Regions from separate parts of the Homo sapiens genome. Here all the other regions are linked to region 2. The links come from fine-mapping of genetic effects on gene expression. A gene starts in region 2. Each other region holds a variant in brackets. All regions are shown on one strand. Distances are from middle to middle.

What was found. PIP is the estimated chance that this variant, and not a neighbour inherited with it, causes the effect. A credible set is the group of variants that fine-mapping cannot tell apart.
Region 1: its variant is the best candidate, but not a certain one, in a credible set for the expression of DMTN in subcutaneous fat (GTEx, PIP 0.86).
Region 3: its variant is the best candidate, but not a certain one, in a credible set for the expression of DMTN in whole blood (TOPMed, PIP 0.80).

Annotation. Positions count from the first base shown.
Region 1 is chr8:22,150,262-22,161,026 of GRCh38, forward strand. It overlaps LGI3 (leucine rich repeat LGI family member 3), which reads right to left and starts at 6,545. Exons shown (of 8, transcript NM_139278.4): 1 at 6,076-6,545; 2 at 5,131-5,202; 3 at 4,299-4,370; 4 at 3,881-3,952; 5 at 3,707-3,778; 6 at 1,570-1,739; 7 at 1,228-1,392. The coding sequence starts at 6,281. It also overlaps a transcript of SFTPC not described here. RefSeq lists an enhancer at 6,578-6,722 and a cis regulatory region at 6,650. The variant C/T (reference allele first, on the strand shown) is at 6,650.
Region 2 is chr8:22,051,854-22,062,618 of GRCh38, forward strand. DMTN (dematin actin binding protein) reads left to right here and starts at 4,961. Exons shown (of 16, transcript NM_001387751.1): 1 at 4,961-5,283. RefSeq lists enhancers at 1-387, 6,079-7,040, 8,004-8,965.
Region 3 is chr8:22,071,018-22,080,768 of GRCh38, forward strand. DMTN (dematin actin binding protein) reads left to right here. Exons shown (of 16, transcript NM_001387751.1): 9 at 1,309-1,433; 10 at 2,713-2,818; 11 at 9,163-9,227; 12 at 9,395-9,443; 13 at 9,601-9,608. Among named protein-coding and RNA genes, the nearest start is that of FHIP2B, 13 kb to the right of the region's middle. The variant CT/C (reference allele first, on the strand shown) is at 7,488.

The DNA.
Region 1 (10,765 bases), 98 kb after region 2:
TTTTTTTCTTTAATACTGACTTCAAGTTCCTTAATGGAGACAGGGCAATGTAAGTTTTCTATTTCATCTTGTGTCAGTTTAAGCCTTCTATTTTTTTTTTTTTTTTTTTTTTTTTGAGATGGAGTCTCGCTCTGTCACCCAGGCTGGACCGCAGTGGTGTGATCTTGGCTCGCTGCAAGCTCTGCCTCCCAGGTTCATGACATTCTCCTGCCTCAACCTCCCGAGTAGCTGGGACTACAGGCACCTGCCACCACGCCCAGCTAATTTTTTGTATTTTTAGTAGAGACAGGGTTTCACCGTGTTAGCCAGGATGGTCTCAATCTCCTGACCTCGTGATCCACCCGCCTCGGCCTCCCAAAGTGCTGGGATTACAGGCGTGAGCCACCGCACCTGGCGGTTTAACCCTCCTTTCTAAATATCTCCCTCCATCCCCACTGCTACTGTCTCGTGTCCAGGCTCCAGCACCCCTCTAGCAGACAGGCACATATCCCCCTACTGTTCTGCCCTCATGTATGGCCCCACACCTAGCCTTTTTCCATGCAAGAAGCTTTCTAAAATGCAGACTGGATCACACATTCTGCTTAAACCCTGTCAATGACCTGGTACTCATCAATATCTCGTTGCCACTCCCCACCTTGAACCTTATCCCTTTTCATACAAGCTGCTTATGATTTGCACACATATACACACTCACATACTAAGTTACTGCACACCTCCTTGACTTCGTTCATGCTGTTCCCTCTGCCAAAACACTCTTTCCACTTTTTTGCTCCTAGCTAAGTCTCCTTCAGCTTTCAAGACTCAGATCAAACTCAGTAGATCCAAAACTGCTCAACAGTCACTCCTGTCTCCTCCTCATTTCCCGGTCCATCTAATTACGTAAGCCAGAAACCTGGGGATCACCTCTGAGTTCTCCCTTTCCTCTATTCTTCAAGACTCAGCTTGGGTATCCCCCCTCCACCAGGAAGCCTTCCCTGATTGCCCAGGGTAGGCTTGTCCTTTGTGCTGCTAGAGCATCATGTTCATATCTCCCTCTTAACACCTGCCTATCATATGGATGTTATCGGTGTATACATTGGCCTCTTCCCAAAGACTGGAAAGTTCTTGTGGGCAGAGGGTATGTCTCATCTATCCCTCTACCTACAGGAACTCAATGGGGTTGAACGATGGAGCCCACTCCCCCCTCCCCCTAGCAAGGGCCAGCAGAACCAGATTGGGCGCAGGTACCTGGGATTCTATCATAGTCTCGAAGCTGCCGCTCAACATAGTCCCACTTCAGGATGGTGCAGGCACTGACTCCTGGCTGGGCCAGAGCCAAATAGAGGTCACTGGAGTAGAGGAAGGGCTCAGCCGACACTGCTGGGAAGGCCAGGGTCTGGTACAACACAAAATCTGCAAGATGAGAGGTGCGTTACTGAAGACCAGAGGGAGAAGGGAAGGGCTGCTTGGGTGATGGTGGTTGCTTTACTGCTGCCGCTGGGTGTTGTGGGGCAGGGTGGGGGGTTTCGTGTCTGTAAAGCTGCCTTGGGGTAGGCGTGGACTGACACCCAAGGCAGGGGCACCTCCTACCTGTGGTGATGCAATCGAACTCCCGCAGCGGCAGGTCCTGCACCTTGTGCTCCTGGAAGCGGGGCGGGCTGGCGCAGTAGATGGGTGCCACCGTGGTGTTGGTGTGTGCCAGCCACTCCACCAACCACTTCACCTTGCAGTCACAGTTGAGTGAGTTGCCCCGCAGGTCCCTGCATCATGAGGGCAGAGGAGGGGGGCACAGAGAAAGACATGCTCTCAGGGCTCTGCCTACCCAGGCCCTCCAGGTTTTCAGAAATAGAGCTGGTCAAGGCTGCTGCAAGTTGCTCACATGCATCTTTGTAAGATTAGAGAAAAGTTTCCCTCTGGCTGGATGTAGCCCCACAGACACAGGCTTGGCCAGCAGAGTATGGAATCAGTTTCAGTCCTTGCTGACTTCTTTGGCTAGGTTGGCTTTTGCAGTGTGCATCCTGCACAGCTGTATGTTGCATCCCTGCTCCTCTAAGCCTCCCACAATCCAAGGCTTTTATTTTCTTATAAATAACAATAAATGAGTGTGGCTCTGCTATATACTACTATATGCTATATATTCCTTACTCGAAACTTTCAAAATCCCCTCCCGCTGATTGGACTTTAATGTAGAGTCCAATCAAACATACATTTAAAAAGCACAGGCTGGGCATGGTGGCTCACACCTGTAATCCCAACACTTTGGGAGGCTGAGGTGGGCAGATCACAAGGTCAAGAGTTTGAGACCAGCCTGGGCAACGTGGTGAAATCCCATCTCTACTAAAAATACAAAAATTACCCAGGCATGGTGGCGCACACCTGTGGTCCCAGCACTTGGGAGGCTTAGGCAGGAGAATCGCTTGAACCCGGGAGGCAGAGGTTGCAGTGAGCGGAGATCACGCCATTGCACTCCAGCCTGGGCAACAGAGTGAGACTCCGTCTCAAAAAAAAAAAAAAAAAAAGCACATGTTGGCCGCGCACAGTGGCTCAGGCCTGTAATCTCAGCACTTTGGGAGGCAGAGGCGAGTGGATCAACTGAGGTCGGGAGTTCAAGACCAGCCTGACCAACATGGAGAAACCCCATCTCTATTAAAAATATAAAATTAGCCAGGTGTGGTGGTGCATGCCTGTAATCCCAGCTACTCAGGAGGCTGAGGCAGGAGAATTGCTTGAACCTGGGAGGCAGAGGTTGCCGCGACCTGAGATGGCACCACTGCACTTCAGCCTGGGTGACAGAGCGAGACTCTGTCTAAAAAAAAAAAAAATTTTTTAAAGTACTTTTTTTTTTTTTTTTTTAATATTTTGAGACTGAGTTTTGCTCTTGTCGCCCAGGCTGGAGTGCAATGGCATGATCTTGGCTTACTGCAACCTCTGCCTCCCAGGTTGAAGTGATTCTCCTGCCTCAACCTTCCAAGTAGCCAGGATTACAGGCGCCCGCCACCACACCCAGATAATTATTGTATTTTTAGTACAGACGGCGTTTCACCATGTTGGCCAGGCTGGTCTGGAACTCCTGACCTCAGGTGATTCGCCCTCCTTGGCCTCCCAAAGTGCTGGGATTACAGGCGTGAGCCACCACACCCAGCCTTTTTTTGGCTGAGCACGGTGGCTCAGCACATTTTTGGCTGAGCGCGGTGGCTCACACCTGTACTCCCAGCACTTTGGGAGGCTGAAGTTGGCAGATCACAAGGTTAGGAGCTCGAGACCAGTCTGGCCAACATGGTGAAACCCCGTCTATACTAAAAATACAAAAAATTAGCCGGGCGTGGTGGCGCACACCTATAGTCCCTTAGTCCCAGCTACTCCAGAGGCTGAGGAAGAATCGCTTGAACCTGAGAGGTGGAGGTTGCAGTGAGCCGAGATTGTGCCACTGTACTCCAGCCTGGGTGACAGAGTGAGACTCCGTCTATAATTAAAAAAAAAAAAAAACACACACACACATTTTGAAAACATACACACATGGTGTCTCAGGTGCACTTTGAGAGAAACTCCAATTTGGAAGGCTACCATCTATATCTAACTCCACCTCCTCACCTCCTCAGGGTCCCCCCACCCAAGCCTTCCCAGCCTCTCAAGACCTTATGACCATCCCAATTCTGACTCCCACACCACTCCCTCCAGGGATGCGCCCTCTGCGGCACTGTTGGAAGAGGCAGGACTCAGGCCTTACAAGTCATTCAGGATGTCCAGGGGCCGGAAGATGTCTCTGGGCAGTGTCTGCAGGTTATTGTTGGCCAGCGAGCTGCAAAAGAGACCGCCAGGTCATCTGAAGATCATGAGCAAGGCCAAAGGCCACAGGAGAGGTGGGGCTTTGGTGCAGTGTGTGTATGTGTGACGTACTCACAGGTGAGTCAAGGACTTGAGTCCTCGGAAGGTGAACTTGGATAGTGCCCAGATGTCATTGTTCTCAATGAAGCTGGGGAAAGCGGGAACTTGCCTCAGTGCTCACACAGGATGCCAGACCCCCAGCAGCACTCGCCCTACGCCCCAGCCTAGATTTCAGCCCGTGTCCCCGAGACAGGTTTCCAAATGGAGTCTGGCATCACCAAGCCATAGAGATAGAGCATCAGGTAGGGTAGAGGCAAAATGAATGAAACGACCTTCTGCTCAGGTCCTGCCATCACGGGATGCAAGGGCTCTCGCCTCCCATCACCTTCCCTTCCTGCGGCATTCTCATCCACTCCCTACCCAGTCCCTCGGCCTCCCAGGCCTGGGGTCCCCCTCCCTTCTGCTTTCCCATTGCCCCTTTCCCTCCCACACACAGATACTGCAGGTGCGACAGTCCTGTGAAGGCGTTGTCTCCAATCAGTGTAAACTTGTTGGAGTTGAGTAACCTGCAGAGACAAAGGTGGAATTAGAGCTTCCAAGGGTGTGCCTGCTGCCCCAGCCCCCAGCCCGCTGCCTCAGCCCTGGGCTTCCCCAAGACATGACTGCCCTGCTGCTACCCCTGGGGACCCCATGGGGAATCCCTGGGCCACCTGGGCAACAAGGCCAGGCAGGAGCCTGTTCTGGCCCCAGAAGCTCCCAGGGTCCCTGTTGGATCCTAAACATGGGCCAAGGCAGAGCTCTCTTGTCAAGCCAGCTCCTGGTCCTCCCGGGTGGCATCTCCTCTCCCTCTCCCCCACCCTCATTCTGTCCCATTCCAGCCCCTCATGGACAACTGTCCCTCATGGACGGCATCTTGTAGGGTTGGAGACACTCCTGCCATCCCTTTCTTTCAGCCCCCAGCTCTTTCTGGGAACTCTGATTCCTGGGATCACCTGTCTCTAAGATGGCCCCACAGTGCCCACCTTGGGCACTAGCCCAGGCTATCGCACCCAATTCTCTGGGGTTTCCAGAGCAGCCAAGCCCATCCCCGCATCCCACTTGCTTGGCTTCTCTGTGCCATCCCTAGCTGTCCTCCTGCTGCCCCGACTCCCCTGACTCAAGGCTGCCCCGTCTTTTGGGTACATCCTATCAGAACAAAAGCAAGGGACACCTGCATCTTCGTCTGCAGAGGCTGCCTCTGTCCACTCTCCCTCTCCCCAGCCCAGGATTTGTCCCCTGCTACCACCCCATAGTTCCCCCAACCCTTCCACAAGGCCCTATCCATACAAGAACTGCAGCAGCGGGAGGTGGGAGAACGCTCCATCCTGGATCTCTGAGAAGGCGGCATTCACCAGGGTCCTGCGGGGACACCCGAGTCAGTACTGTGGGGTCTGCAAGGGCTGTGCTGAGGCAGGGAGAGGTGAACACGGAGGGCAGTAGCTTTTGTACTCACTTGCCCTGGAAATGCCCCATTTCACCTAATTTAGCCCCCATCTGTGTGTCTTTCCCTTCTCCTCCCAAATTCACTGCCTGCCTTCACCAGGGTCCTCCCCTATTGCCTCTTGGGGCACCCATGGCCCCAGGCTCAGCTTCCCTCTCAGGCAAGAAAAGGTTCCATCACCCACACCGTTGTCATCATCATCCAAACACCCACAATGGGCTGGGTGCTGTTGAGAGATGGGGCATGGGGGTGGGGGCTGGCATCCTGGTCCCCAAGGACCTCACAACCTCTCTGGTCCCACAGACAAGGGGGAGCCCCTGAGGCTGGCTGTTGTGAGTGACAGGCTGGCCGAGCTGAGTGCCAAGTGGCTGGTCAGTGGCGGGCATGTGCCCCATGCCAGGGTGCTGGGAGGGCATAGCTCATTCTCATCCTGCTCTGGCCGCCACTCTCCTGCCCTTGGTGTGACATCACAGGCAGGGGCCCACATGCTCGTGTAAGCAACCCCCCCAAGTCTGGAGCACAGCACACAGTAGGTCTCACTGTCGCTCGTGGTGATGATGATTCATTCTTGGTGGTGAACTCCTGCTTTCCCCACCCATGGCCGCTGAGCCTGCAAAACTGCAGAACTCCCTGCCCGACTGGTGCCTGGAATCTCCAGCCCTGAGGACCCCTGCAGTCCCCCTGGTCCCCGCACTCTGAAGAGGGGGAGCGGGGGTTCTCCTGTCCTCTCCCAGAGCTGTCCTCGGCCTCCTCTCCCTCCCCAACCCCCAAGGCCAGGGCTGGACACTCACAGGGAGATGACCTCCGAGGGCAGGTTCCTGGGCACCGCCTTTGAGTCCACGCAGAAGGCGGTGTCCCTGGTGCAAGAGCAGCTGGGCGGGCAGGGGGGCGTCTTGGGGGGCCTCTTAGCGCTGACTTGCAGCATGAGGCAGAAGCCGAGCGCGGAGAGCGCCAGCAGCCCCGGCCCCGGGCCCCCCCTGGCCCGCAGCCCCGCCATGCTGCCCGCGATCTCTCCCTGGGGCCGGCGGCCGCGGCCCCCGCCCCACCGCTCCCGCGGCTGGGCCACCCCGCGCGGGCTGGCACCTCCCTGCCACCGGCAGCTGCTACCGCAGCCAGGGGCCCGCCTGCGGACTCCTCCTGCCCTCGGGCGCCGGCTGCGGTCCCCTCCCCTGCTCGCTCCCGCGATCCGGCTCGGGAGAGAAGAGCGGAGCGCGGAGCTGGAGCCGCAGCCGGGGCTGACCGCGCCGGGTGGCTGCGGACTGCGGCGCGGGCGGCGGGGGCGCGCGCGGGGCGGCGCGGGGCCTGGGAGTCACGGAAGGGGAGGCGTGGCCGCTGTGTGCTCTACCGGGCGGTCTCTGGGGCCAT[C/T]CGCGTGTGGGGCTGCGCGTGAGTGCATGCGTGTGAGCTTGTGCTTGTGCCTCTGCTGGGCACGACTGTGCGCGCCGGTGCTCACCTGTCTCTGCACGGGCACATGCACTCACTGCCTTGTGGAGGCGCTTCGGCGTTAGGGATCCCTGTGCTTCTGTCTACCTGGGTTTCTTTGCATGGGGGGACACATCCCCTAGGCAGCATCATGGGCATGTCGTGAGTGACAGACGCATATCTAAGTTAGCATGCAAGATTAGAAGCACAAGGGCGTCCTGGAGGAGTCTGAAGTGCGCTTCTAACCGGATTCACATGTTTTTCCACGCGCCGCTGAACAGAATGTACCTTTGTGTCAGCATGAGCTGAAAAGGGAAACGCAGCCTCTGGAGCTGGAGTGGGACTGTGTGGAATTCTGGAACATTTCTCACGCTCAACCACAGCCTGTTAAAGCTGGGAAGCGCTTTGGATATTTTTCAGTCCAGCCCTTTGTCTAACAAATGAGGAAACTGAGGCCCCCTAAGCTTGCTATCGCAAGTGCTCTGTACTTTCCCTACTTAATCCTCTCAATCGTTTGAGGCAGGTGATAGTAATTCCCTTTTACAGACAAGAAAAGTGAGGCCTGTCGCACCAGAAGAAAAAGGTATCAGCAGGGATTTCCGCCCACTCTGCCCAGCTTCAAGGTTCACGGTCGTCCTTCCATGCACGGCTCTTCCAAGTGTAGCCCTGGGAGCCCGGGGGTCCTTGAGAACCTTTCAGGAAGTCTCTGAGGTAAAAACAATTTTCCTAATATTGTTAAGACATGATTTGCCCTTTTCACTTCTATGAAGCTCCAAATTTAAAAGATTTCCAAAACTGTAAAGAAATGACACTTTCTCTCTAATTTTATTTTGCTTTGTAAAATAATTTTGCTTTGTAAAATCGTTTTTCCATTAAAAATGTGATTTATGTCATAACCTATATTGGGTTTATTACTGATATTTTAAATTCACATGTAAATAAAAATGTAATTTCTCAGTAAATATCAACAGACATATCCCACATAAACAAAAGCTCTTGGGGGTCCTCAATACTTTTTGAGAGTGTTAAGGGGTCCTGAAAACAAAAAGCTTGAAGACTGCTGCTCTCTACCACGTTAGCTCCCCTGTGGCGGAGGATGACTGTCCTAAGAGCTCATAGGCACGGGGCAAGGGGAGCCTGGCTGTCAGCTGCCTGGGCTTCTAGTCTTGTGCTTTTTGCACACCAGTCCAGGGAACGAAGACCACTGGCTTTAAGATGCTTCCCCAGCTGTCCCCAGACTCTGCCAGCAGGGGATTCTCTGGTCTGAGCTTAAGTTGTGTTCTCCCAGCCAGGGATGCCCCTGCCCTTTGATGTCTCCTTGCTGCCACACATTTAGCCGCCCTCCCCATGCCAGCTTGGGGGGAGGGAAGCAGTGAGGGTAGGGAGGTGGCTGGGGCAGCTGGGCAACTGTCCCCACCCGTCCCTGGCACGGCTCTGCCCAGTACACAAAGAGCAAAGTGAATCTTGTCCCCACCCCTGCAGCTGAGGGGCTGGAGGAGGAAACGGGGAGGCCCACACAGAAGGGGTGGCCACCGTGGGGCTGTCCATCACTCAGGGCTCTCAGAGGGAGTCAACCCAGAAACAGACAAAGAGGGTGAGTCTGGGCTGTGTTCTTAGCTAGTGAGAGGTCCCCTAGAGGATGAAGTAGATGATGCTAATGAGGATGACTGGATGTCACACCCATGATGCTATTAGGTCCTCATAATAGCATAGTGAGGTGGACAGCTAGTACCTGACCCATCTCACAGATGAACATACTAATGCCTAACAAAGCAGAACGACTCACGCTGGGTCCCAGAGCTGGCCAGTGGAAGCACTGAGACCTCCACATACTGAAGGCATGGACTATTGACCGCTGTTGGTATTGGTCTCATCATTGACTATCATTAAGTGTTGGCTGTTTGCATGCTTCCTGCCCAGTGGCAGGTTCAAAGAAGCCCGCAGGAAGCGTGCTCCTTTCTTTCCCAGGGCCCGCAATTGGGCTGGAAGATAGAGCAACAAAAAGCGCCCATGTAACTCATGGGAACATTCATGTGTGCTGAATGGCAGGTGAAGGTGCCACAGAGAGGCTGAGGATTTCAGAGGGCACCATGAACTGGAGTGAGGTCGCAGAGCAGGTGCCATTGGCTCTTGGCCTGTTTGGGTGGGTGGCATTCAGAGAGGTGGAAGGTCAGATGCACTGTTCACGCCTGTAATCTCAGCACTTTGGAAGGCCAAGGTAGGAGGATCACACGAGGCCAGGAGATCAACGCTGCAGTGAGCTATGAAGCTGTGATTGCACCACTGCACTGCAGCTTGGGTAACAGAGTGAGACCCTGTCTCTAAATAATTAAATAAATAAAATAAAAATAAAACCGGAGAAGTGGAGAGGGATTGGAGGTGGGCTTTCACAGAGGGAGAAACGGCTTAAGTACAGGCCAAAAAGTGAGAAGGCTGCAGACAGGGCTGGTAGGGGGAGGGGGAAATTTGGCACACCCAGCTAAAGGTCCTTCTGTGTCTCCTTCTCCAAGGAACCCAAGACCTTCACTTGGTTGGTGTGAGCACTCCAGGAGGCAGGCACCCTCCCTCAGCCCTCAAGCAAGCAAAAATGGGTTTAAAAAAAGAAGGAGAAGAAGCAGCAGCAGCAGCCGCCACAGAGCTTGTGACAGCTACAGCCTAAGGGCAACAGGCAGGGGAGACCAAGGACCAGAAAGAGCAGAGGCTTTTTCAAAGAAAGAGATCCCTCTCCCAGCACCCAGCGATGGCGGCAAACCCCACCCACAGTGCCTGCTAAGAACAAGTCCCACGTGAGAACAACATGGCCCCCCGAGATGCCCACAGGGACCCCGAGATGCCTGCAGTGCTTGGCTCTCCCGCTGGCCAGCTGCCCACCTGGCTCAGGCCCAGTACTCGTGAGTCAGCCGATCAATCCCAATGTTGCCAGGATGATGGGGGCGGGAGTAAGGGCCCTGGGGGAGGGCAGGGGTGGGCACTGCAGGCGAGCTGTCTCCCACATCTGGCACCTGCACACAGCTGAGGCCGAGCTGAGAGGATGCTTCTGTGGGCTCCCCCTCCTCCCGGCACCCCTCCCCTCCTTTCACTGTCCTAGGACACTCTCTGGCTGCTGGAGTCTTAGGCAAATATTTAAAGGGGCAGCAAGGGGGTGAGGAGGGTGGTGGGAGCAAACACTTCCCTCCCTTTCTTCCTCCCTGCGCTTCTCAGGGGCTCTCAGTTCAGATGCCATGCTGTTATGCAACCTTGGGGCTGAAGGCCCTCCAGATGGAGAGGGGGACAGGGGAACCTGCCAGCTCATGACCGAAGGGCAGGGCCCAGGTGGGAGGGGGCTGGGGCAGGGGACAGGAACTGGGGTGGCATGTTAAAGGACAGGAGGCTGGTTGGGCATGGTGGCTCACACCTGTAATCCTAGCACTTTAGGAGGCCGAGATCACTTGAGCCCAGGAGTTCGAGACCAGCCTGGGCAACATGGTGAAAACTCATCTCTATAAAACAAGCAAAAATTAGCTGGGCACAATGGCATGCACTGGTAGTCCCAGCTACTTGGGATGCTGAGGTGTGAGGATCACCGGAGTCCAGGAGGTCAACGCTGCAGTGAGCAGTGATCTCGCTACTGCATGCCAGCCTGGGTGATAAAGTGAGACCCTGTCTCACAACAAAACAAAACAAAACAAAACAAAAGGATAGGAGGTTAAGGGAGCGAGCCCAGGCCTGGACTCTGCCACAGTCACCTGAGTTTAGAGGTGAAGGGACTTTAGAGACCACCTGGCCCAAGGAGTGAAAGGGAACCTGAGAGAAAGGGTGAGCCAGCCCAAAGTCATTGGCAGATTTGACCTCGTAAATACATAGAGATGGCTTTGGGAAGGCACTAGGAAAGACAGAGAAAAGAGAAGGAGACAGTCCTCAAAGCTGATCGTATTTGGGTGAGTATTATTCTCAGGGCAAATTTAGGATCAGAGGATGCAGAAAGGGGAGTCTAGAGGGGTAGAGTGTAGACCACAGGGTGAGTGAGCTGATTCGAGGATGGGGAGACTGGGAGCCCACCAGTGACCAGAGCCAGCCCTGTTC
Region 2 (10,765 bases):
ATCAACCACAGCTCTACCCACGCCACACTATCCCGGCCAAACTCCTTAGCGTCATCTTTAAGACTCCTGTCCAGCCCTGTCCAGTCTCCCTATTCGGCCCTAGCCCCACAACTCCCCTTTAAGAATACTGGAAAACTGGAACTCTATCAAGCAAGCATGTCCCCATTCTCATTTGAAGGGTCCCCGCCACCTGGCGTGTCCTGCTCTAGCACACACACACACACCCAGACCGCAGGCTCCTCCTCTGCTCCATAGGCTCTTGGCACTACCCCGGGATGAGCGACTGTCTCCACTGCCACTGGTCTTGCCAGCCATTCACTTGCCCTTGCCTTGTGGTACATGTCACAGCTTGTCCAGAACTGTCATGATGTATGTGCTTGTCATGATTCCGCTAAATAGCAAGTGCCCCAGATGTAGAAATAGTCCATCTTTTCCTCCCCGACAGTGCCCAGCACAGTATGTTGCACAGGGTAAATGTTTATTGAGGAAATAAACCACTTGAAGCCCTAGAAAGAAGTCATTGGCCCAACACCCCACCATCCCTCTAGGCAGAGGCAGGAGAGAGGCCAGAATCCTGCCTTCTCCTTCCTTCTTTAGGCAGACGTGGGTGGGGCGGGGGCTTAAGCAGTTAGTCCCAGTGTTTATTTTCCCCCCACAACATTCAAGTCCTGTGCTAATCCTTCTGTTAATAAAAAACATGGACAAGATAGAGCTCTCAAGGCACTTGAAATTTAATTGGAGGGATAAACCCATAAAAAGGCAATTATTTGTTCTTTGGTGGGACTTTTGGAAAACCCTCTCTTACACATGACATAACAAAGCAACCTTTTTTTTTTCGTACGTCCCCAAAGAGGGAAAGGGGAGATAAGAATTATTGGGAATAAGGAAACTAATATGTACCGAGCTCAGGAGATGTGCTAGGCCACACTCAGGGCATACTTGCTTGCAATCCTTCTTTAGGGCAGTGAGATGTTCCCATGTAGCACATGTGGATGAGTTCACACTCAGAAATGCCAGGCCATTCACGGTCTCACAGCTAGTGAGCACTGCACTCTAGATTCTGCCCGGCTTCCACACTTTGCCTGCAAAGTGTGCCCAGGCATCGTGAGTTCTGGGGCAGGAGAGAGCACAGGCCAGGGTGCTTGCGGGGGCTTTGTGGAAGGTCTGGGGTTTGCATGATTTCAGATGATTTCAGTGGAGAAAATATGCACAGAGCGGAAAATGACGAGAGGAAAAACGGGCACGAGAATCAAGGCGGCAAAATGGGAGGTGTGCTCCAGGGAAGGGGAATAGTCCGTCTACTTGGCTGGAGCTGAAATTTGTGTAGAGAAGTGGCAGGAAGTGATTGGATCAAATGATGAAGAGTTTGGTCCTTATGCTGTGGCAGGGAGGAGATGGTGAGGGGCTTTGCGGGGGCCAGATGCAGTGGTCTGGTGGCAGCATGCTGAAGGAGTGGAGGCTCTAGGGTCTGGGCAGCAGAGTCCAATGCCCGGAGGCAGGGGCACATGGCTCCCAATCTCTGGTGAGAATGGTGGCTTTGGGGCCCTCATCCTTCCTTTTCTTCAGGTCTCTGTCACCCTTTCCTTCCTCCCTGAGTGTCCAGGTGCCCTGGCTCCACCTCTCCCGAAGTTAATGTTTAGATAGCTCCCCCGCCCAGCAGGTTGGTGTGTAGGGTGGGGCCGGGGGGCACTGGAGTGAGACAGACCAGACGTGGACAGAGAAGCCTATCGACAGGGCCTGGGGGAGGGAGGAGGCAGCAGGGCCGGAGTCCACCCAGGACATCTGGCACCAGTGACCTTGTGGGGAAAGGAGCCAAGAACGGGGCGTCGGGGGGCCTGGGACCCCCCTGCCTGAGAGATACAGGAATCCTGGCCCCGTGTTGTGGACACAAGCGCCCATCCTCAAGGTCCTGAGAACTCCTGAACTTCCAAAGGTATGAGAGCCCTGGCAGCCGCCTCCTGCCTGCTCAGTATGGAGCAGAGCTGAGGAAGCCCACCCGCCTGGGGCCTGAGCCAACAGGCACCTGTTGTTCAGTGTTGCCAGCTTTCAAGGGGGAGAATCTCCCCTCTCAGACAAGCCATGGGGGAGTTCAGTTCAGCTGGCCTTGAGAGGTCAGAGGCCTTCCCAGGGGGAGGAGGCCGGAGGCAGAGTGAGTCTTCCCATGGGACAAGGACAGTGACGAGGTAGGGTCAGAGGATGGCATGGGTGAGAAGGGTCCCCTTGCCTCCCCTCTGAACGCCCACCACCAATACACACACACACACACACACAGACACACACACACAGCCCAGATCCCTGGCAGCAAAATGACCTTGGCAGCTACCACTCCTCAGGTCGACAGAGGGAGCCCTCACTCTGCAGTCCCCTTGGGTCCAGGCCTGGCTGGGCTGAGCACTCTTCCTGCCCAAGGTGGCCCGCCCGCCCCACCCATGGAGGGACATTCCGATAGAATGTGAGACTCAGGCATGGTGGGGGACAGTGGGAATGGGGCCTTGAGGAATTGGAAGAGAGCTGTCCCTTGCTCTGAGTTTTCTCAGGTGGAATGAGAGAGGGTTTGGGACCAGGTGAAGGTGCTCACAGAGACGGCAGAGGTGTGGGGCCCGCAGCCGCGTGCCCAGTGCAGCCAGCGCCCAGGGGCCTCTGAACCCTGCCGGAGCAACCCCTCTGGCCCTTCAGCACAAGGACTGTCCCTGCCTTGCTGCCTGTCATTGTCCCGAGCTCCACACTGGGCTTCCTGGAGTGGGGACTCTCCCCAGTGCTGCATACTCTTCAAGACTGGCCTGCTCTCCAGCCCTGAATTAGGGTTCTCCTGGGGTCACCCCTAAAGCCAATTCTAGAGCCTTATGAAAGGAAGTGGGGGGATGGGGTACTTGGTGGGGTTCACTGGGCACCCTAGCTCCTGAAGCTGTCCCCTAACCCCCAGCCCCAGCACTGAGGACCCACCCTCAGGCCCCCTCCCTCCATCTCTGAGGAAGAGGCAGCGGGAGGCACAGCTTCCTCCTCCCCCCCTCCCTGCTGCCGCGGCTGAGCCGGGCCTGAGCTGCCGGCAGGTTGTCTTGGCAACAGGAGGTGGAGAGGAGATGCGCCGAGGGATGGAGGTGTATGTCACCGAGGAGGCTGCTGCGCTCCTGCCCCACGCCCTGGGCCCTTGAAGGTACCGAGCACCCTCCCCTCCTTCTCCCCTCCGCCCTTTCCCCTTGACTCCCCCTACTCTGCCCTACATGCACTGGCTTCAATAGGAGGAGGCACCCCTCCTCCCAGGCCCAGCGATTCTACCCATTCCTCATCACCCACCTCGTTCCAGGCCCCTGGCCACAGCTGTCCTTCCTGGCATCAGCTCATTCCAACTCTACCTCTGGGGACCCTTGCACCAGAAGACAGCTCTCCTGGGGTGGGGCCTGGTGGGGGAGGGGCAATACAGGGGAGGAACCCAGGTCGGGGTGCGGCGGGGATCAGGAATTCTAAAGGGCTGAGGTGTCAAAGCCCCAAGTACCTGGTCCGCTGGAGGGACCGAGAGAGATCATCTAGGGCTGGAGTGGGGCTGGGGCTTCCCCTCTGTCTCTCAGACTCTGATTAGAGGGAAGTAAGGGTGGGGTTGAAGGTACAGAAAGCCGAGAGGCTGGGCTGAGGCCGGGCTGGTTGTGGAGCGATGGCTGGAGTGGCTCCTCCTCCAAGGCTGTGCCCCTTTCTGCCACATTGAAGGTATGCCCCCTCCCACATCACTCTCCTGGCCTTTTTCTCTGCAGTTCCATGGATCTGATGCTTCATCCCCCACCCCCAGGTTTTCTCTACCTTCACAGCCACCCCCGCCTGGCTGCAGCAGCTCAGCCTGTGTTCTGTCTCCCTTCTCAGCCACCTGCCTCCTTCCTTCCTCCCTTCTCTCTGGAGCCCATCCCTCAGGTTACTGTCCTCTCTGTCCCCACCAGCCAGATACTTTCTGTCCCCTCCTGGCCTCTTCCCTCAAGCCCCTCCCCCTGTGCTTCTCCATTCAGACACCCCAGAGCCCCCTCCCCAGATTCTAGATTTCCCCAACAACAGCTGATACCATCAGCTGACCGGCTGGGGGCAGGGTTGCCAGGGCAACGGTGAGGGCTGCCTAGGTAGGCAAGTCTGCGGTGTGGAGGTGGAGAGGACATTGGGGCCAGGGCGAGGGTCGAGGGCAAGGCTTGTTGTCCTTCCCCATCCTGCCCAGGGGGCCCGAAAGGCCAATGAGAGGCTCCTGGGGTGGTTGAGGCTTTGCTAGAGACAGGGAAGGCACATGCCTGTAAATTCTGTGCTGGGACCCAGGGGTTACCAGGCAGGAAGCTCCTTTTTCATGAAGCCACCCTAGGGAGAGATGGGGTCCTTCTCTCTCTCTGCTGCATCCCATTGGAGTTCCCAGGGGATTCAGGTTACTGAGGGGCCAGCTCAAGTCTCAGTACTGAGGACCTGGTTGCATCCCTCCATTCTACCCTCCCAGGAGAGAGCTCATCCTTGGGTAACCAATTCTGGCCTGTGCCTGCACCCCCACCTCAAGAGGCTGGGCCCCAGAGGCCTCAGTTGCTGCTGTCAGATGGTGGGGTGGTCATGAATAGGGTAGGAGGTGCAGGTGCCTGGAGAAAGCAGGCATTGTCCGCCTGGGTCATCAGTAGCCCCCTCCCTCGACCCACCGCCCACAGCAACTTGAACTCTGGCTGTTTAGGAGGAGGCTGAGGGGCTCTGGGTGCGTGTGGGTGTGTGTGTGCGTGTGAGTGCTGCAGACTGCGGTGTGGGAAAGGGAGAGGACAGTGCTGGCTGATTCTGCTTTGTCATGACGCTGGGTTAATGCTCCTCTTGTTTGAAATGGATTGAGCTGCAGCGCTGGTGGAAGAGCGCGCACATCCACACACACACCCTTGCCAGCCACACGCTATCAGCTGGAAGTGGGGAGGGCGCGGGGAGGGCGTGGGGGAGCCAGCAGCCCGCCCGCCCTCCCGCCCCCAGACGAGGACTCCCCAGCACCGGGGGATCCAGGCGGCCGTGCGTTGCAGAGAAGCAGGGTGGGGGCAAGGAGGGTGGGGGCCCAGAGGGGAGATCAGACCGCTCAGCCGAGACCAGCTCCCCTCCTTCGCCAGCTCCCACCCCGCCCACCCACCCTAAGCCGGCATTTTTCCTGTTATTTGTGCTCCGGGGAAGCGCCGCGGGGTTCCTGGAAGAGACACCTATTACCTAGGCTCCTGGGGGAAGTGACAGCCCGTGGATCTGGCCTACGCCTCTCGGGCCTCTGTGGCCTCAGAGCGTCTGGGCCACACTGTCTGGGAAGAGGTAGGTGGCAGGGTCTCCGCCTCTCCTCCCCTCTGTGGGCACTCTGGGCCACAGCGCTTGCTGGCGAGCCAGGCTTTGGGTGGCAGCAGGGTATCTGGGGGGAGCCCACTGTGGGCCCTGTTCAGTGGGAGGATGGGCCGGCCCCTGGGACCAGCTGGGCCTGATCTAATGGAACCTTCTGATCTGGGGAAGAGGGCCTGGGGTGTTCTCATCCCAAGGATGAGAACTGCTCCCAGCCCAATCCCCTCTTTGCCAGCATCTCTGCCTGGCCTACCTAGCTGAGCAGGCCAGCAATGGAAGGGATGGACTGTGGGGGCACGGGGTGGGCAGGGGAGCATTCCCTCTCTGCTGAATACTGGCCCGCTGGCCTCCCCAAAACCACTCCACATGCTCTGGGGGTTGGAGCAGTACATTTAGGGGCCTGAGGCTGTTTGTTTGGAGCCTGCTTTTTAGGGGGAGTGGGAGGAGAGCCTGCCCCCAGCCAGTGGCTGGCCAGGCTGGGGTGGGGCTGAGTGAAGAGTGAGGCTGTGGCAGGGCGCAGCTGCAAGCCCAAGCCCAGTACTCCCCCTGTGCCCGCCGCTGGGGTGCTTGAAGGGGCCAGGGCTGAGCAGACATGCAGCCCCCACAGGGTTCTGGGGCTCCCCCTCCCTAGCTCTGTCCCTCAGGGCCTAGCAGGTCCAGCCCCCTTTCTTGGGCAGACACACCCAGTGTGTCCCTTCCAGGGACCAGTTGCCTGGTTGTGAGAGTCAGGGGAGCAGGGACAGGTCCAAGACAAGGAAGGCAGTTGGGCTGTGGGAATGGGGAGCCCAGGGAAGGCCTCCAGAGCTGGGTAAGTGGAGGGCTCTGTGTATGTTGCTGTACACGTGCACTACTCTGGGATGGATGCCAGGGAGAGGACCGGTGGGTGGGTGTGAGCGGGTGTTGGCAGCACCATGTGTCACAGTGAGGGGGCCTCGATGGGAGAGTGGGGGCATGAGCTGGCACACAGGGCTTCGGAGTCTCCCCGCGTGCATGCGTCCTGCAACGGTTTCAGCGCGGGCGCTTCTGCCTGTGCCCACCTGTCCATCTTGTGTCCGTGCTGCCGGCCTCTCTGTGGTCAGGCGTTAGACTCCTGGGTGAGGTTGTCCACCCGTGGGTGGATGTCTGCAGAATCCCTCTCCTAGAGCTCCTGGGTGTTGTGGGACTGGAACAGGGAGGCCCTGGGATCCAGAAAGCTGAATTGAGGCTGCATCTCCCCCAGCTCTGCCAGTCCCACTTGTACAACAGGACCAGCTATAAATGGAGGGGAAGCAGTCCGCCTGAGGGGGCTGCAGGATGCAGAAAGCAGAAAGCGGGGTCTCTTCAGAGGGTGGGTGGAGAGGGCACATAGAAACCAAACCAGAGAGAGACCTAGGAGAAGATGGCTGCACAGATGCGTCTCTGGGTGGGCTAGAGAGGCAGGAGGGGGCACCTGGGCCCGGTTTTGTTGTTATTGAGAGAACAAGGGAGGGCAGGCCTTGAGCAGGGGGACTCTGGGCTCCCCACCCACCCAGGCCTGGTCCTTTATCCGAGTATGAGAGGGTGCCCTGTAGTGCTGGGTTAGGGGAACCCTCATCCCAGCAGACACAACGGTAAAAAACATTGGAGTAGGGGAGAGGGAGAAAGTGGGAGAAGAGGAGGGAGTCCCCAGGCTCTGCCAGCCTTAGGACAGACTTGGAGTTCAGGCTTCGCCTAAGTAAGGGACACCTCTGATGAGCCACTGGCCCAGAGCAGGCCTCAGCCTCCTGGTGTCCTTTTCCAGTGGCGGGGGGGTGCGGGGAGCAAGGTGCCCTACCCCACCCACATCACACGCATGCACAGCACCCATGGGAGCGCCTGGCCCCTGCCCTGCAGCGCCGCACTGCTCCACCCTCCCTGCCCCTCCCCACCCAGGATGCTGTTTTGGGAACTGGTGACCTAGCTGGATTCTGCCTTTATTTCTGGCATTGAATTGTTGCCACAGTAACTGCGGGGGTGGGGCTGGGTAGGGGAGAGGGTGAAAGGGAAAGAGGGAGGGAGGGAGAAAAGATGAAGAAAGCCAAGAAAAGGGACCAGAAGAGAAAGCAGAAAGACAGGAGGAAGAAAGGGAGAGAGGGCCAGGCAGTCGCACTGTGAACAGAACAGGAGAAGGCGAAGCGGGGCAAAGTTCCCTGCCCACCGACGCCAGCCTGCTTGGATGACTTGCCTCGTTTCATAATTCACTTACTGTCTGCACCAGCCGGCCTCCAGCCTGGCTGGACCCTGCTGCCTGTGTGGCCCGGAGCCAGAGGCCCCCACACTCCCAGCTGCTCTTCTACAGATGCCATCAACGAGCAGGACTCTGGGTGGCTCCACTGTCTAAGGTTAGCACGTGGGACCCCCAAGTCCCACATTTTGATTGAACTGGGATCTTTGGTACTCATTGAAAAGAGCACTTGGCTTTGGCCTCAGGCAGGCCGGGGTAGGGATTCTGGCTTGGCTTCTATTTGGGGGGCCTTCGGCAAGTTCACCTCTCAGCTTCATTTTTGCTCATCTCTAAATGAGGAGAATGTCGTTTTGTGTGAGGTTTAGAGACGATGTATGAAAGTCCCAAGTATACAGGGGCTGCCACCAAGCAGGTAGTGGTTGGCTGGAAACAGGAGCACAGCTAGACCAGGGGCCCTCCACCCCGAAGTTGCCATTCTGCCTGCGGAGGCTTCATTTCTAAAAGTCCAGGGGAGCCACAGTCTGGATCAGTTTCTGCCTGGAAGAAGAGCGCGCCAGGATGAGTGGGCACAAACTCGGAGGGCCCAGTGGGCGGGTCTTATCACCCACATCCTGGGGAGCTGTGGAGAGGAGAGGGTGGTGGGTGAGGTGGGGCTGGGCTGGTGGCTCAGATAAGGCAGGGACACACAGCTGGGGGAGGGTGGGGCTGAGATGGAGGGCGAGCGGCTGGCTGGCGTCCGACCAGGGCCAGGGGCAGCTGAGCTGTCCCTTCCGTCACCTGGACCTGCCTTCCTCTGTGGTGCTCTCTCTTCCTCCCTCCCTCCCCTCTTCCTGCTGCAGCTCGCCCTTTCTATCTCTTTGTGCACGGAGGTCGCTGGGACCTTGGGGATGCAGGCACAGACAGGCGGGGTGCATGGATGGGAGAGGGGTCTGGATGGGAGGAGGTGGAGTGAGCTGGCACTTGACCTGCGAGAAATGAGCTTTGATGGAAAGGGCTACTTGTGGGTGGAGTAGGCAGGGTGTGATTTGAGAGAAGCCAAGGAAACTCTCTCTCTCTTTCTCTCTTTCTGTCTCGCTCTCTCTCTCTCTCTCTCCCCCTCACACATGCGCACGCACACACACATATACACACACTCTTCTCCACCCCCATTTTCCCGGCTGGCCTTCTGACAGCTTAAAATTTAACCAGTACAAACATTATGCCTTAAGGCTAGGCCCACGTTTACGTGCAAATGCCCCACAAGGGGTAAGACAAAATTTCTGCCTCTGTGGAAATAATTTATCAACCAACATGCTCTCTAACAAATGGCAGGGGGTGGCACCAGGGTGCAGGGCCCTGGCTGACCCCAGGAAGCAGACCCAGATGCTAAAGCGCAAGACCCAGCAGTGGGGTTGTGGGCAGGAAGGGACTGGAGACAGAGCAGAGGTGAGAGGCCAGAGGCTTAGTGACTCACACCAGCTTTGCCTGGGTAGTATCCTGGTGAATGGTTTTAGAAATCAGACAGACCTGAGCTTAGATTCCACACAATACTGTGTCCTTGACCAACTACTTAACTTGTTCAAGTCTCAACTTCTTCATGTGCAAACGAGGTACTCGCCAATCCAAGCCAACCCACAAGATTGGAATGTAAGGGTTAAATTGAAACAAAGATGGGCTGGGCAGGGGCTCACACCTATGATCCCAACATTTTGGGAGGCAGAGGTGGGAGGATCACTTGAGCCCAGGAATTCGACACCAGGTTGGGCAACATAGGGAGACCCCATCTTTACAAAAAAAAAAAAAATTTGTTTTGAATTAGCCGGGTGTTGTGGAGTACTCCTGTAGTCCCAGCTACTCGGGAGACTGAGGCAGGAGAATGGGTTGGGCCTGGGAGGTCAAGGCTGCAGTGAGCTATGATCATGCCACAGTGCTCCAGCCTTGGTAACAGAGTGAGACCCTGTCTCAAAAAAAAAAAAAAAAAGAAAGAAAGAAAGAAAGAAAAAATGTGAACTGCCCAGCACAGTGCCAGCTGTAACACAGACGTTCTATAAATGGCAGCTGTTCATATGACTGTGACCATCAGGATTTTGAATCATGTTTCTGAGTGCCTGTGCCTCTGGCACGGTATTTGTGCACGTGTGAGTATGGGGATATATGACCACATACTCCTGAGACATGGCTTACCCTGGGCCACTCACCTTTCACCTCTCTGAGTAGCCACCACTCTGACAGATAGCCACTTTCACACTCTGTGCCCCTCCCCCCGGTGGTGTTTCAGGAAGATTCCAGGGCCTCCCCGAGGCTCCAGAACACACTGAAGTTATCCAGTCTCCCTCCTGCCCCTCTCTGTGTGCAGCTGCACATGCTCCTCAGAGTGACCCCTCCAAACCTCTGACTCACCTGTAAGATCTGCAGAGAACCTTAATTCTCATTTTTTTTTTTTTTTTTTTTTGGAGACAGAATCTCACTCTGTTGCCCAGGCTGGAGTGCAGTGGTGTAATCATAGCCCACTACAGCCTCAAATCCCTGGGCTCAAGTGATCCTCCTGCCTCAGCCTCCCAAGTAGCTGGGACCACAGATGTGCACCACCATGCCCGGATAATTCTTCATTTTTTAAAAAGTAAAGACAGGGCTCACTATATTTCCCAGGCAGACCTCAAACTCCTGGCCTCAAGTGATCCTCCTGCCTTGGCCCCCGAAGTGTTGGGATTACAGGCATAAGCCTCTGTACCTGGCCACCATCTCTCACTTTTGCTGGGAAAATGGAAGCCCTGTATGGTTGTTACCCAACTTCTTTCCCTGTCCTCTCCTTTCCAGGGAGTGCAGCAGTGACATGATCATAGCTCACTGCAGCCTTGACCTCCTAGGATCAACCCATCCTCCTGCCTCAGCCTCCAAGTAGCTGGGACTATAGGCGTACTTCACGACACCCAGCTAATTAAAAAAAAAAAAATTCCTTTGTAGAGATAGGGTCTCTCTATGTTGCCCAGGCTGGTGTCGAATTCCTGGGCTCAAGTGATTCTCCCACCTCTGCGTCCCAAAGTGTTGGGGTTATAGGCATAAGCCACTGCCCAGCTCATCTTTGTTTCCGGGGAGCCTTTCTTCCCAAAGCCAGTCTTGTACTTGGCTGTGAACTTGATCCCTTCCCTCCTGCTGCCGTCTTGCTCCACCCACCTAGTGCCCACTGCCCCCTGCAGCCTCAGTCTTTCCTGTCTACCGTTCTCTCTCTGCTGTCTGCAAACACATTAAAGGCCTTAGGCCAATCTTATCTCCTCCAAAACGACCCTGCCTTTCTATCAC
Region 3 (9,751 bases), 19 kb after region 2:
TGTGTTGCCTACCCAGCTTCATGGCAAGGTGAGAAAATGTTACTCTTATTTTATTGTATTTTTATTTTATTTATTTATTTATTTATTTATTTATTTGAGATGGAGTCTCACTCTGTTGCCCCAGGCTGTAGTGCAGTGGCACAATCTTAGCTCACCACAACCGCCACATCCCGAGTTCAAGCATTTCTCCTGCCTCAGCCTCCTGAGTAGCTGGGATTACAGGCATGCACCACCACACCTGGCTAATTTTTTGTATTTTTAGTAGATATGGGTTTTCATTATGTTGGCCAGGCTGATCTCAAACTCCTGACCTCCAGTGATCCACCCGCCTGTCTCCCAAACTGCTGGGATTACAGGCGTGAGCCACCATGCCTGACTCTCTTTTTAAATGTTGAGACAGGAAGTCTTGCTCTATTGCCCAGGCTGGAGTGCAGTGGCGAGATCTCGGCTCACTGCAACTTCTACCACCTGAGTTCAAGCGATTTTCCTGTTTCAGCCTCGCAAGTAGCTAGGATTACAGGTGCCCACCACCACACCTGGCTAATTTTTATATTTATATTTATATTTATTTATTTATTTGGAGACAGAGTCTCGCTCTGTCACCCAGGCTGGAGTGCAGAGGCCTAATCTTGGTTCACTGCAAGCTCCGCCTCCCGGGCTCACGCTATTCTCCTGCCTCAGCCTCCTGAGTAGCTGGGACTACAGGCGCCCGCCACCACGCCCAGCTAATTTTTTTGTATTTTTAATAGAGATGGGGTTTCACCATGTTCGCCAGGATTGTCTCGATCTCCTGACCTCGTGATCCGCCTGCCTTGGCCTCCCAAAGTGCTGGGATTACAGGCGTGAGTCCCCGCGCCCGGCCTATTTTTATTTTTAAATATTTATTTGTTTATTAAGACAGGATCTCACTCTGTTGCCCAGGATGGAGTGCAGTGACTCCATCACAGTTCACTGTAGCCTCGAATTACTGGGCTCAAGCAATCCACCTAGTTCAGTGTCCCCAGCAGCTGGGACTACAGGCATGCCCTACCACCCCGGGCTAATTTTTTAAAATAATTTTCTATAGAGACTATATTACCCCAGGCTGTTCTCAAATTCCTGGGCTCAAGCGATCCTCCCACCTCAGCCTCCCAATGTGTTGAGATTACAGGCATGAGTCATCTACCGACCCTACTTTATTTTTTAAAAAAATTTTGTAGTGGCCTTATCAAGGTCCAGCCCAGAGCAGTGCACAGAGGCTGTGCCATGTAAACACACACTGACCCCATGGCGAGTGACTCCCTCCCCACCTTTGCTTGTGTCTCCTAGAGACAGAATGGAGGAAGCGGAAGGCGTCTCGGAGGGGAGCAGAGGAAGAGGAGGAGGAGGAAGATGACGACTCTGGAGAGGAGATGAAGGCTCTCAGGGAGCGTCAGAGAGAGGAACTCAGTAAGGTAGCATCTCACCACCCCCACCCTCCACCCCTGTGCAGGAGTCTCGCTCTGTTGCCCAGGCTGGCATGCAGTGGCATGATCTCAGATCACTGCAACCTCCGCTCCCAGGTTCAAGTGATTCTCCTGCCTCAACCTCTTGCATAGCTGGGATTACAGGCACGCCACCACCTCGCCCAGCTAATTTTTTTTTTTTTTTGTATTTTTAATAGAGATAAGGTTTTGCCGTGTTGGCCAGGCTGGTCTCGAACTCCTGACCTCAAGCGATCCGCCCACCTCGGCCTCCCAAAGTGCTTGAATTACAGGCGTGAGCCACTATGCCCAGCCCACCCTGTGTGTCTTTCTGGGGACAGAAGTTCTGGCTCTGTAGCTAGTCGAAGGGGTTCCTACCCGAAAAGCATGCTTTTTGGAACATGTTGGGGAGCCGCTTCTTGCCAAGACCCCAGGATTTTGCTTTTGAAGGGACACCTGGACTTTATGCTGCTTTCTGGGGGACACTACTTGATATAAGGGTCAAAAGCACAGAAAAGGGTGGTCCCATCAGAGCTGGGAGCTAGCAGCCTGAGTGATCCATGGGAGGAGAGAAAAGGAGAGCATGGGCTACAGGCCTCCAGGGGAGGAGGGAGAACCATGGAAAGACCATTGACAGTGACATGGGCCTAGGCTCTGAGCAGGGTGACCTGGGACAAGGACAGGGAGGCCGCCGTGGTAGAGTTCTACCAAGCAGCGCTGACTCCTGGCTTTCAAGGGTGGCCAAACCCATTGTGGCCATGTGTCAGCCACGAACAAGAGGCTCTGTGAGCTCCAGGGCACAAACCAGCCACTTGGGAAATGTCCGCAGTCCTGCCTGCAGCATGGCCCAACTCTAGACCTTTTAGAGATAAGAAATGAGTATTGGCCCAGCACAGTGGCTCACACCTGTAATCCCAACACTTAGGGAGGCCGAGGCAGGAGGATCACTTGAGCCCAGGATTTTGAGACAAGGCTAGGCAACATGGTGAAACCCCATCTGTATATAAAAAAAAAACAATTAGCTAGCTGGGTGTGGTGGTGCATGCCTGTGGTCCCAGCTCCTCAGGAGGCTGAGGAGGTTGGATTGCTTGAGCCCAGGAGGTCAAGGTTGCAGTGAGCCATGTTTGTGCCACTGAACTCCAGCCTGGGTGACAGAGTGAGACCCTGTCTCAAAAAAAAAAAAAAAAAAAAAAGAAAGAAAAAAAAAAAGAGAAAAAAGAAACATTCAAGTGTCTAAGTCTTGGCTCCATCTTCCTTTCTCCCTCCTCAGGTTACTTCCAACTTGGGAAAGATGATCTTGAAAGAAGAGATGGAAAAGTCATTGCCGATCCGAAGGAAAACCCGCTCTCTGCCTGACCGGACACCCTTCCATACCTGTGAGTGCTGTGGAGGGGGCTCAGAGTCACCTGGCCAGAGATGGAGGCCTGACTCTGTGCATCTGTTGACTTGTGACACATACAGGATGCAATCCCTGACCCAAAGCACGGCTGCTCTCTTGGGAGCAAGAATCCCAGTCATGGAACAATGTCAGATGATAAATGAGAGAATCGGCTAAAATAGAATTCAGCAAGTTTGGTTTAATTTAACAACCATTTATTGAGCGTTTACCATGTGCTAGGCACTGGGCATATAAGCAGGGAAAAAATCTAGTCTTGTCCTCTGGTAGCTTGCTGTTGGCGGGGAAACTGTCATGGAACGTGGGATTTCGATGCAGTGTGGCCGGTATTGTGATCAAGGTGCGCGGGGTGCTTTGGGAGCACAGCAACAGGGCCTGGGAGGCCAAACTGAGGGGTTTTGTTGTGGTTGTTTGTTGTTTGTTTGTTTGTTTTATTGAGACAGGGCCTTGCTCTGTTGCCCAGGCTGGAATACAGTGGTGCACTCTCAGCTCACTGCAAACTCCACCTCTCAGGCTCAAGCAATCCTCCTACCTCAGCCTTCTGAGTAGCTGGGATTAAAGGTGTGCGTCACCATGCCTGGCCAATTTTTAAAATTTTCTGTAGTGACAAGGTCTCACAATGTTGCCCAGACTGGGCTCGAACTCCTGGACTCAAGCAATCATCCCGCCTTGGCCTCCCAAACTGTTGGGATTATAGGTGTGAATCACCGCGTCCAGCTTAAACTGAGTCTTGAAGGCTGAGACCAAGCAAGCCAGAAAAAGTGAGTGGGAGAGCGCATTGCAGACATTGGGAATGGTGTGGGAGCGAAATTGGGAACATGAAACATCTGGCTGGCTGAGCCTCCAGGAGTCTGGAATTACAGAGTACAGGGTACACTGTGGGGCAGTGGGCAGTGAGACCAAGAGATGGGGAGCGGGGCAGGCTTTGAATGGCGTGGCCCACTATCCAGCGCACTACCCTGGGCTTCCTCAGAGCTTGGCGGCTGGAGAGGAGAGGAAGACCTGAAAACCCAGCAATGAAAGCTGCAAAGCCTCTTAAAGCCTAAGAGGGGTCCCGGCATGGTGGCTCACACCTGTTGTCCTAGCACTTTGGGAGGCCGAGGCGGGCGGATCACAAGGTCAGGAGTTCAAGACCAGCCTGACCAATATGGTAAAACCCCGTCTCTCCTAAAAATACAAAAATTAGCCAGGCATGGTGGCGCATGTCTGTAATCCCAGCTACTCAGGAGGCCGAGGCAGGAGAATTGCTTGAACCCAGGAGGTGGAGGTTGCAGTGAGTCGAGATGGAGCCACTGCACTCCAGCCTAGGGAACAGCGTGAGACTCTGTCTCAAAAAAAAAAAAAAGAAAAAAGCCTAAGAGGAAACCACATAGTGTCACTTCTTCATTGTAGCTGCCAGAGCCAGTCACTGGCCACCTAGACTCAAGGGGAGGGGAGCTAGACCCTCCTCCTCCCCCTCCCCCTTCTTCTTCTTCTTTCTTCTTTTTTCTTTCTTCTTTCTTCTTCTTCTTCTGGCAGGGTCTTGCTCTGTTGCCCAGGCTGGAGTGCAGTGGCACCATTTTGGCTGACTGCAACCTCTATCTTCTGGGCTTGAATGATCCTCCTGCCTCGGCCTCCTGAGTAGCTGGGATTACAGGTGCATGCCACCATGCCCAGCTAAATTTTTTTTTTTTTTTTTTTTTTTAGACAGAGTCTCACTGTCACCCAGGCTGGAGTGCAATGGTGTGATCTTGGCTCACTGCAACCACTGCCTCCCAGGTTCAAGCAATTCTCCTGCCTCAGCCTCCCGAGTACCTGGGACTACAGGCACACACCACCATGCCCAGCTAATTTTTGTATTTTTATTAGAGACGGGGTTTCGCCATGTTGGCCAGGCTGCTCTCAAATTCCTGACCTCAGGTGATCCACCTGCCTTGGCCTCCCAAAGTGCTGGGATTGCAGGCGTGAGCCGCTGCGCCCAGCCAAGACTCCACTTCTTGATGACAGGTACCACAAGGTCTCATTGCAGAAAGCATGAAAGATGGGAGGCAACAGTGCAGGCCATCTTTGGAAATAATCTACCACACTCTCCAATAGACTGGATAAGGGCTAAAAAACGATGTGGGTCCAGAGAAGAGGGAATGGATTTGAGAACATATAGACAATTGAATCCGCTGGATCGAATCCAGTGGCTGATTGGACGTGGGAGGTGCAAGAGAGAGAAGCTGAGGTTTTTGTCTTGGGTGCTGGGTGATGACCAACTTGGAACTGAGATAATAAGAGAGGCGGATTTTCAGGGAAAGATGAGAGACTGGTTTTGGACATGTGGGGTTTGAAGTGCCCCATGTACAGCACTGTGGGTGGAAGGTGCATCTGGCAGAGTTGGGAGCTTGAGGGTCTTCAGCTTGCTCATATGTGGCAGGAAAATGGTGAGGAGAAAGTAAGATTGTACAGAGAGAGGAGGGAAGGGTGCCTAGGGCTTCCATTAAAGGTCCAGTCGGGGCTCATGCCTGTAATCCCAGCACTTTGGAAGGCTGAGGTGAGAGGACTGCTTCAAGTCAGGAGTTCAAGATCAGTCTGGGCAACGTAGTGAGACACTGTCTCTATAAAAAATAGAAAAATTAGTTGGGAGTGGTGGCATGTGCCTGTAGTCTCAGCTAGTTGGGTGGCTAAGATGGGAGCTATGATTGCGCCACTGCAGTCTAACCTGGGTGACAGAGTGGGATCCTGTCTCTAATTGTATATATATATGTATATATGTGTGTGTGTATATATATATGTCACTATATATATATATACACGATATATATAGTGACATATATACACATATATACAGTGACATATATATATAGTGACATATATATACACACTATTTTGGGTGACACCTGGGTGTCCTATTTTTTCTTTTTTGGGTGACATATATATACACACACACACACATATACATATATATATATTAGAGGGCTGGTTTGAGGACTGGTTGAGATCGAGCCCCAGAATGTGTGGGAGGCTGGCCTTCAAAGGCCTCCCCTGTGGGATGGGAACTTGGATCCAGGGGCAGGCCAGATGAGAAGCCGAGGTTGTCTGCTGAGCGTTAGAGGGTGAGACTTGGTGAGAATGGCGAGGGTTTGGAACTGCCGTGGAGGGGAGGAGAAACGTGCGAGGCTTGGCCTTTGTAGTGATGCTCATCTACATTGTGTGGGCTGTATGTCCACAGCTGGGGGCAGGATGGGAGCTGTTGGGTTGACCCTGGGTTAGCGTTTTTAAGGATAGGTGCTGAGGGGCCAGGCTGCACCATGGAGGAGCTGATAAAAGTAGTTGCTGTGCCCAGCCACAGAGCCGAAACTGAGAAGGTAGTGACAGAAGGTGGGAGGTGGGGGAGGTAGGAGGGGAATGAAGAAACTGGAGTTCTCCATGAGGTTGCTGGGCTGGGTGGTGGGGATGGAGCTGAGCCAAAGCCACAAAGTGAATGGTCCAAGCTCACAGTTTCTAGGCAGCGTGGTGCAGCTGATGACAAGATCCTGGGCATGGCTCTTTGAAAGGGTTATCTCATGTGGAGCAGAGGTGAAAACCACTGGAACTGGGGAATTCAAGGTTAACATGTGGTTAGGACATCTGAGTGTTCCCCAGAGCTCTCAGGATGCTGTCTCTGTGGGTGGGAAGAGCTACAGAGGTTTATTAGAGAATGTGGAATAAAGAGTTAAGGCCTAAAGAATGATGTGGAGAGAGGATGCGTGAAGGTTGGATTCAGTGTCAGTGTTCTGCCAGAATCTTCTGTTCAGCCCAGATTAGCTCTTTAACTTCCATTTTGGCCTCGTGAAGTTGAAATAGCCAGATGCCTACCTCTGGATCATCTTTGGCGTCCCTGAACTTGTGGGTGATTAATGATCACATGACTGCATAGGTTACTGTCATATTTAAACAACCTGAATTCTAGAATCATGAACAGGCATGTCATTCTGATTAAATGGTGACACTGGAATAGTCGCTCTGGAACACACGTAAGCATTTTATAATAGAAGTAATTTGGAGGGGAAAATCTTCGTGCAGGGTTTGAAGGTTGAAATTCTATCAGTTGGTTGAATAAATGTGTACTTATTATTCTAAGAGTGAAATGCTTCAATAGTGAATGGTGATTGTGAAAGCTATTTTCTAAATAAAAATAAGTGTTAGGGGTAAAAATGAGGTTTTGTTCTCAATAATCGAATGCTTCCAAGCAACAGATTTCATAAGAGTATTTTAAGAAGAGGCTGGGTGCAGTGGCTCACACCCGTAATCCCAGCAATTTGGGAGGCTGAGGCAGGTGGATCACCTGAAGTCAGGAGCTCAAGACCAGCATGGCCAACATGGTGAAACCCTGTCTCTAACAAAAATACAAAAATTAGCTGGGCATGGTGGCGCGTGCCTGTAATCCCAGCTACTCAGGAGGCTGAGGCAGGAGAATCACCTGAGCCTGGGAGGCAGAGGTTGTGGTGAGCCAAGACTGTACCACTGCACTCCAGCCTAGGCAACAGAGTGAGACTCTGTATCAAAAAACAAAAAATATATATATACATATATACATATATTCATATATATGTATATATGTGAATATATACATATATATGTATATATTAAGATAGTTCCTCATAGTTTTGAATCTATGGAGGTTAACTATTTATACAAAAATG[CT/C]TGTGGAAACAGTTGGTATAAATGCCAGCCATTTCCAGCAATTGGAGGTGAAGGCATTTTGAGATCACCTCAAGCTAAGGATCTTAGGTACAAAGTTATTTCCAGGAAAACATATTACTGGAAACAAATTTTCCTGAATTATAATCTGTAGTACTTCAGAATTTAGAGATCCTATTAAATGTGCAAGTTGAGACTGAGGTCCAGTAATGCTGATGTGAAGTTGTTGACTGCTGGTACAATCCCCAGTGACAGTGCTTAGAACATGACTCTTTCTGTAGTATAATGTCAGACTGTTTTTTTTTTTTTTTTGAGATGGAGTCTCGCTCTATCACCCAGGCTGGAGTGCAGTGGCGTGATCTCCGCTCACTGCAAGGTCCGCCTCCCAGGTTCACGCCATTCTCCTGCCTCAGCCTCCCAAGTAGCTGGGACTACAGGTGCCTGCTACCACGCCCGGCTAATTTGTTTTGTATTTTTAGTCGAGACGGGGTTTCACCATGTTAGCCAGGATGGTCTTGATTTCTTGACCTCGTGATCCACCCACCTCGGCCTCCCAGAATGCTGGGATCACAGGTGTGAGCCACTGTGCCCAGCCTAATGTCAGACTTTTAAAATTTGATTACTAGGCCAAGCATAGTGGCTCACACCTATAATCTCAGCACTTTGGGAAGCCAAGGTGGGAGGATTGCTTGAGCCCAGGAGTTCAAGACCAGCCTGGGTACCATAGTGAGGCCTGGTTTCTACAAAAAATAAAAATAAATAAATAAATAAATAAATATATATATATATATATATATATTAGCTGGGTTTGATGGCGCATGCCCCTAGTCCCAGCTACTGAGGAGGCTGAGATGGGGAGAATCACTTGAGCCTGGGAGGTTGAGGCTACAGAAAGCTATAATCACACCACTGCACTTCAGCCTGGATGACACACGGAGACCCCATCTCAAAAATAAATAAATAAACAAACAAACAAATATGAATACTAGCTGAGCAGGTGGCCCATGCCTGTAGCTCCAGTACTTGGGAGGCAAAGGCAGGAGGATCACTTAAGTCCAGGAGTTCAGGTTCAGCCTGGGCAACATAGTGAGACCCTATCTCTATTAAAAATTTTTGGCCGGGCACGGTGTATTTTTTAATAGAGACAGGGTTTCTCCATGTTGGTTAGGCTGGTCTTGAACTCCCAACCTCAGGTGATCTGTCCACCTTGGCCTCCCAAAGTGCTGGGATTACAGGCATGAGCCACCACTCCTGGCCAAAAAAAAAATTTTTTTTTTTTAGATTTGATTACTAACATTGTTAATAAAATTATAATAATGTAATTATTGTGATTCGATTTTAGTTTTCTTTGTGTATCCCAGAGGTTCATTTTATGATGTGAGCCTTGGCTCTGGCTGACTCAATTTTCACATCAGGCATTGGGCCCAGTTGTATATTTGGGCCACTTCTAGCTGGAGAGAAGAGGGATGGTGGTAGAGACAGCTGAGAACCACCAGCACTGTATTGCTTGCTGAAGGTGACCAGTAGGAGCTGGGAGCTAGCAGAAGCCCACCAGGTTCCCCCCAGCGTGATCCCTTCCTGCCCTGCCCCAGCTGTGGAAGGCCAGTGAGGTTGCTGTCTCAGGAAGGGCTGTCAGGGCCAAAGGGACTGAACTCAGGACCTTTTGCTGTCTTCCAGCCTTGCACCAGGGAACGTCTAAATCTTCCTCTCTCCCCGCCTATGGCAGGACCACCCTGAGCCGGGTAAGGTCTCAGGACCAGAGATATAGACTACGTGGGAGGAACGTGCATGTGGGGTGCTGAGGGACTGAGCCACTTGGGCACCCTCAGGGAGCGGGGAGACCCCCAAAGTGAAGGGGACCAAAGGTGAATATCCCCGACTGCCTCTGATTCCTTTGTGTCCTTTCTAGCTACAGTCCACAGAGTTCAGCCCATCAGGGAGTGAGACTGGAAGCCCAGGTGAGAAGTGGGGCCTGGTGCCGGGGTCTGGAGAAGGGGCTTACACAGGTCCCTGGGCAGCCGGGGTCTGGGCTGTGGGCAGGGGTCTGGTGAGGTCAGGCGTGTTGGCCTGCTGACCTCAGAGCTGCATCTGACCCATGCCCCTTCTCTCCCGCAGGCCTGCAGGTGAGTGCCTCCTGGAGGGGAACAGGCAGAGCAGCAGAAGCTGGGTCCTGGCACCCGAAAGTGTCAGGGGAAGGGGGGTGTGGGGCCACAGAGTTGCCTGGTGAAGAAGAAGAAGCCGGGGTAAGGCTGGGAAGGTCTCCCTG